Linked DNA regions of Homo sapiens: region 1 is linked to region 2. The links come from fine-mapping of genetic effects on gene expression. A gene starts in region 2. The other region holds a variant in brackets. All regions are shown on one strand. Distances are from middle to middle.

Region 1 (2,912 bases), 42 kb after region 2:
GACAGCAGTGACATGAAGAAAGCAGGTAGAGATGAACCCTCGGACCCACCTGCTGGCTGCCTACTCTCAACCCCGCTGCCCTTCCGGGGCATCTGGTGCAACATGAGGAGCACTGGACTGGGAGTCAGTAAGCCAGGGTTTGAATCCTACCTCTGCTGACGATCAAGCACATGACCTCAGACAGTCACTGCTCTGGGGCCTCAGGTTCCTCATCCGTAACATGGGAATGCAGAGAGCATCTAATATCTCTGGCTGTTGTGACTGTAGTTTAAAAATGCACATAGGGCCGGGCAAGGTAGCTCACATCTGTAATCCCAGCACTTTGGGAGGCTGAGGTGGGTGGATCACCTGAGGTCAGGAGACTAGCATGGCCAACACCGCAAAATCCCGTCTCTACTAAAAATACAAATTAGCCGGGCATGGTGGTGCGTGCCTGTAATCCCAGCTACTCGAAGGCTGAGGCAGGAGAATCGCCTGAGCCTGAGAGGCGGAGGCTGCAGTGAGCCGAGACTGCACCACTGCACTCCAGCCTGGGCGACAGAACGAGACTCCATCTTAAAAAAGAAAAAGACCAGCCTGGGCAACATGGTGAAACCCCACCTCTACCAAAAAAATATACAAAACTTTGCCAGGTGTGGTGGTGTGCACCTGTAGTCCCAGCTGCTCAGGAGGCTGAAGTAGGAGGATCACTTGAGCTTGGGAGGACTGGTTGCAGTGAGCCAGGGTCTGCCACTGCACCCCAGCCTGGGCAACAGAGCCAGATCCTGTCTCAAAATAAAAATAAAAATGCATACAAAACACTGAATGCATCCCCTGATACTTGGTAAGTACCCAGTAAACATTCACCCAGCCGGGGTAATATGGGGAAAACCCATCTCTACAAAAAATACAAAACAATTTAGCTGGGTGTAATGGCGCGTACCTGTAGTCCCAGCTGCCTGGGAGGCTGTGGTGGGAGGACTGTTTAAGCCTGGTAGGCAGTGGTTGCAGCGACCCATGTTTGCACCACTGCATTCCAGCCTGGGTAACAGAGTGAGACCCTGTCTCAAAGAAAAAACAAAAAAGCCAAAAACAAACAAACAAACAAACAAACAATCTGCTAGTGGCCGGGCGCAGTGGCTCGCTCCTGTAATCCTAGCACTTTGGGAGGCCGAGGTGGGCGGATCACGAGGTCAGGAGTTCGAGACCAGCCTGACCAACATGGTGAAACC[C/T]CGTCTCTACTAAAAATTCAAAAAAATTAGCTGGGCGTGGTGGCGCGTGCCTGTAATCCCAGCTACTTGGGAGGCTGAGGCAGGAGAATCACTTAAACCCGGGAGGCGGAGGTTGCAGTGAGCCGAGTTTACGCCACTGCACTCCAACCTGGGCGACAGAGCGATGCTCTGTCTCAAAAAAATAAATAAATTAATTAAAAACTGCTAGTGTGATTATTATCTACTGCAGGAGATCTGGCCTGGGCTCACAGCCCCTTCCATTACACCAGAAAATTTCTGTGATCTTGAGCAAGTCAAATCCCCTCTCTGGGCTTCAATTTCCTCATCTGTAAAATGGGAAAATAGTAACCACCAGGCCTGACTCAGGAGAAGACAAAATATCACCTAAGAGTCAAGCATTATGATGAGAAATGGTACAGCAATCTAAAAGTATGGAGTCTAGAGCCAGATTGCTTAGTTTTCTTTTTTTTAAATAAATGAAAAAATTTTTATTGAGTATTACTTTATACATGTAAATTAAAAGTGAATCTATATTAAGTTGACTATTCTACAATAAAAACCTATGCAATGGGAATAATCAAAGCTGTCTACACAATACTAATGTGGTCAATAAATTACCCAGATGTTTTTCCACAAATATTTGGATTACCTGAATTAGCTGATTTTTCCACAAAAGTTAAATTTGAGCTTTAATATGGTAGCAGCAGGATGCTGCTTAAGTTTAGAAGAAAAACATAAGAATAAAAACCCTGAATAGCATAACCAAATCTTCCAAGAAATAAGTTCACCAAAAAAGTAGCATACACCTATTTGGTATCCAGAGGAGGAAACAAAACAAAACACAGGCACTTAATCAACATCCACCAAGTGATCATCACTAACATTCTATTATTACCAGAGCAACTGTCAATACGTGAACCGTAGATTAGGACAGACTTACATATCTAAAAACAAACCAGTAATCAATAATATATACAGAAATACTAACTTGCAGTCACATTTAAATACCATCAACAGTTTGGTGTATCTGATATAGACTGAATTCATTTCATCACTGCTATAAATTCCTTAAAAGTGTTCTTTTCCTAATGTAACATTATCTTTAAAAAATGGTAAGATATTTCCCAATATGCATCAGTTCTTTCACTCACCCATTCAATAAATGTTGCAGCAAATTAAATAGAACCTATTAACTAGATCTAAAAACAATGGCTGAATAATTAACACAAAGAAGTACTTTTGAGTAAACTATTCAGATTAGACAGGCTAATGCTAACTAAGACTGCATTTTGTGCTACTGACATGCACTATATAGATCGTACACTACTAGATGGAAGGTTGGTCCACGTCCATTTATTTAAAGATTCTGTAACACCTATAATAGTATTTAATACAGCTCCCACACATAATATTCCTCTCACATAGACATAGTTATTTTTAGTGGGGATAAGGTATGACTTTAACATGCTATGAGATTCTAGCTAAGTAAAATAAAAACAATATGGGCTCAGGTTTTCTTAGGTAATATTAGTTCAAGTTTTTAAACTGGGAAACAACCAACTTCCATATATCCAGGAGAAACTTAGCATGGGGGGAGGTGCCTTAGTTGATGTGCCTGATAAGCAAACTGTTAGTCGTCTATTAGTATTATGTTTTCAGCTTAATGTAACAACAAAAGAAAGGTGTCACACTACTTCTCAG
Region 2 (2,912 bases):
GGATGTGGTCGTGGCCATGTGAGGCTTGGAGCAGGGCGATGATGACAGAGGGGGGACCGATGCTGCCAGATTCAGGATAAGTTTCAGAGGTGAATGGCCAAGACGTGGGGATCAGTTGGATTTGCTGGAAAGAAAAAAGGAAGGGTTGAGAATGGCTCCAGAATTTCTTACTTTCAAATCTGGGAGGCTGGTAAGGTCATTCATGAAAATGAGAAAAGAGATTATGAGAAAGATGAAGAGTGGAAGGAGCCCAAGAAATCCAAGTGGCCACAACCAGGAGGCGTTCGGTTCCCGGGACTGGGGCCATTCGGAATTCCAGGCCTCAATTTGGTCATCTGTACAATGAGGAGGTCCGCCAGATAACCCCCTAAGGGTTACTCTAGGGGTTTCGGCGCTTGGGTTTGCTTCGGGGCGAGCTCACCTGCGGCTCGGCAGCGACCCCTGGCGGTCTGGGGAGGCTTCTCCTCCTCCTTCTCCTCCTCCTCCTCTTCCTCCTCCTCTTCCTCCTCCTCCTCTTCCTCCTCCTCCTCCTCCTCCTCCTCCTCCTCCCCTCGCTGGGGCCACTACAAGCCGATTCGCCTTGTTCCTTCCAGACCCGAGGGCCTCAGAGCCAGGGAGAGGACCCCTGATGAGTGCCCCCTGAGGGGAGACTGTGCACGCGCCCAGGATGCTACTTCTCCACCGAAGGCCAGAAGGATCTTTCCCCTCCCCTATACTCTGTGCCCTGCGTGTAACTTCCATTACAAGACCCTGCACAGGGCCCGCGAGGAAGACGCCCCCAACCCCGCCTGAGCTGGCTCCTCCCAACCCTTACGGAGCTCGAGCAGACAAGGAGCTAAGTGGGTCCCCAAGAGTCGGGATCAGCGACCCTACGGCATCCTCCCTGAATCTCGCTGCCCAGGATCCATACTAACTTCCCTGCCTCCCGTCTCCTTCCCGGGATCCCCAGTCGCTGTCCGCTAAGCCTCCAGGGAGCTAGAGGATTGGAGGATCCGCCAGGCACCGAGGACCCGCTGACCTGGCACCTGCCTCGGCAACCCTGACTCAGTTTTCCTCCCGCCCTCGACCCCACCCCCCTCCCAGGCCCCACTCCCATCCTCCTGGCCCAACTCATTCCCTACTAGTCCCGCCCTTTCCTGACCCCAAACCAACCTAGTCCCGCCGCCTCCCCTTTAGGGGCTCCTGACCATCCCCCTTCAACACACAGCCCCCTTTTTCCCTAGTTCCACCTCCTCACTCTGGTCCCGCTCCCTACTCGAGATGTCCCCGCCCCTTTAGTGCCCTACGGCCTACTCTCCACCTTGACCCCGGCCTTTCCATCACCAGACCCGCCCCCTTCGCCTCCGTCCAAACCCCTTCCCTGGCCCCACCCCTTTCCCTCGTGGCCACGCCCACCTCGCGTTTGGCCCCTCCCCCTCCACACTTTGCGTTCCGCGGCCCCGGCCCCTTGGTTTCCTAGTCCTGGCTCCATTCCCCTCTCAGGCCTAGGGCTGGGACCCCTCCCCGCCCCCGGTCTTGGCCCTGCCCCCTTCAACAGACGGTCCGCCCCGGCCCCTCCCCCTCGTCCCGCCCGGCCCTGGCAGGCCCCGCCCCCTGCGGCCTCTACCTTTGACGTCTTCCCCCGGGAGGTGGCGGGGGTCTGCGACCGAATGCCGGCGGGACTCTGGGTCAGGGCTTCTGGCGGGCCCTGCGGGGGGCAGCGAGGTGACCGTGAACCTGCGGCTCATGGCGCGGAAAGGAGCCAGGCGGCCGCGGCAAGGTCCGGGATCGCACAAGTGGCTGCAACCAGGCTCTAGGAGGGAGAAAGAGCGGATCCCCCAACCCCCTCCGCCCGCCCGCCCCCCGCGAGACGCGGCGCCGCGCAGGGTCCTAGTGCCCGCTGTGCGAAGGGTTCCTGAATCTGGCCACTTCGCTGGGAGGCCCTGGGCTCCCCAGTGCCACCCGAAGGGCCTGAGGAGGCCATCTGCAGGTGAGAGTCGTCCCTACAACGGGGGCACCTCTGTTAGGGTCTCCTAAACACCTGGGGCTCATTCATTCATTCATTCATTCATTCGGCACATGTCGATAGCGCTCCTGTGTTTCGGTCAATGGTGCGAGGGATACGTCGGTGGATGAGATCCACTGGCTTCTTGCCCTCAAGTGGCTTAAATTCTAATAAGGAGAAAAAGATTATAAGTGAGCAAATGCATAGATGAGATCATTTGAGATTGGATGTATGTTTAAAACTAGGGCCATGGGATAATGGGTAAGAGGGAGGACTACTTTAGGGGTGGCCTGAGAAGGCCTCCTAGAAGATGTGGTATTTGAGCTGAGACCTCACTGATGAGAAGGGCCAGCTATGCAAAGATCTAGGGGGAAGAGTTCTCTAGAAGAAGAAACAGCAAATGCAGAGCCTTGGAGTGAGAAGGAGTCCCGACTGTCCAAGAAACAGCAAGGCCATTGTGTCTGGAAGAGAGTGAGTGGAGAAGAGAGTGACTGGAGATGAGGGAGGAGAGAAGGGCAGATCATGTGGTCTTCTGAAGGCTTTGGGGAGGATCCTGGATTTTTTGAGCAGGGGAATGATGTGATCCAATTTATAATTTAACAGGATCATTCTGGCTGCTGGGCGAAGGTTCAACTAAAGAATGGCAAGAGTAGAAGCTGGAAATCTAATTAGGAGGCTCCTGCAGACCCCAAGCTGGGGGGTGATGACAGCCAGACTAGAGTGGTGGCAGTTGTCTGATTCCAGTTAGGTTTTGAAAGTGAAACCATCAGGACCCACTGATGGATCGGATGTGACACGTGACCATAAGAGTGAAGTCAAGGAGAAATCCTGGCAATTCACACACTGCTGGTGGGAGTGTAGTTAGGCAAAAACTACTTTGGGAAACTATTTGGAAACATCTACTGAAGGTGAACGTACACATATCCTT

Which allele goes with the higher level. Positions count from the first base shown, and alleles are read on the strand shown. Sizes are in standard deviations (SD) of each study's normalised expression.
As copies of C replace T in region 1, the expression in cerebral cortex of the gene that starts at base 1,420 in region 2 goes down (moderate effect, 0.43 SD a copy in GTEx).

The links. PIP is the estimated chance that this variant, and not a neighbour inherited with it, causes the effect.
Region 1: its variant is the best candidate, but not a certain one, in a credible set for the expression of SLC12A5-AS1 in cerebral cortex (GTEx, PIP 0.51).

What each region holds. Positions count from the first base shown.
Region 1 is chr20:45,978,668-45,981,579 of GRCh38, reverse strand. No RefSeq gene overlaps it. Among named protein-coding and RNA genes, the nearest start is that of ZNF335, 7.9 kb to the right of the region's middle. The variant C/T (reference allele first, on the strand shown) is at 1,212.
Region 2 is chr20:46,020,581-46,023,492 of GRCh38, reverse strand. It overlaps SLC12A5-AS1 (SLC12A5 and MMP9 antisense RNA 1), which reads left to right and starts at 1,420. Exons shown (of 3, transcript NR_147699.1): 1 at 1,420-1,969. It also overlaps a transcript of SLC12A5 not described here. RefSeq lists silencers at 1,370-1,729, 1,750-1,909.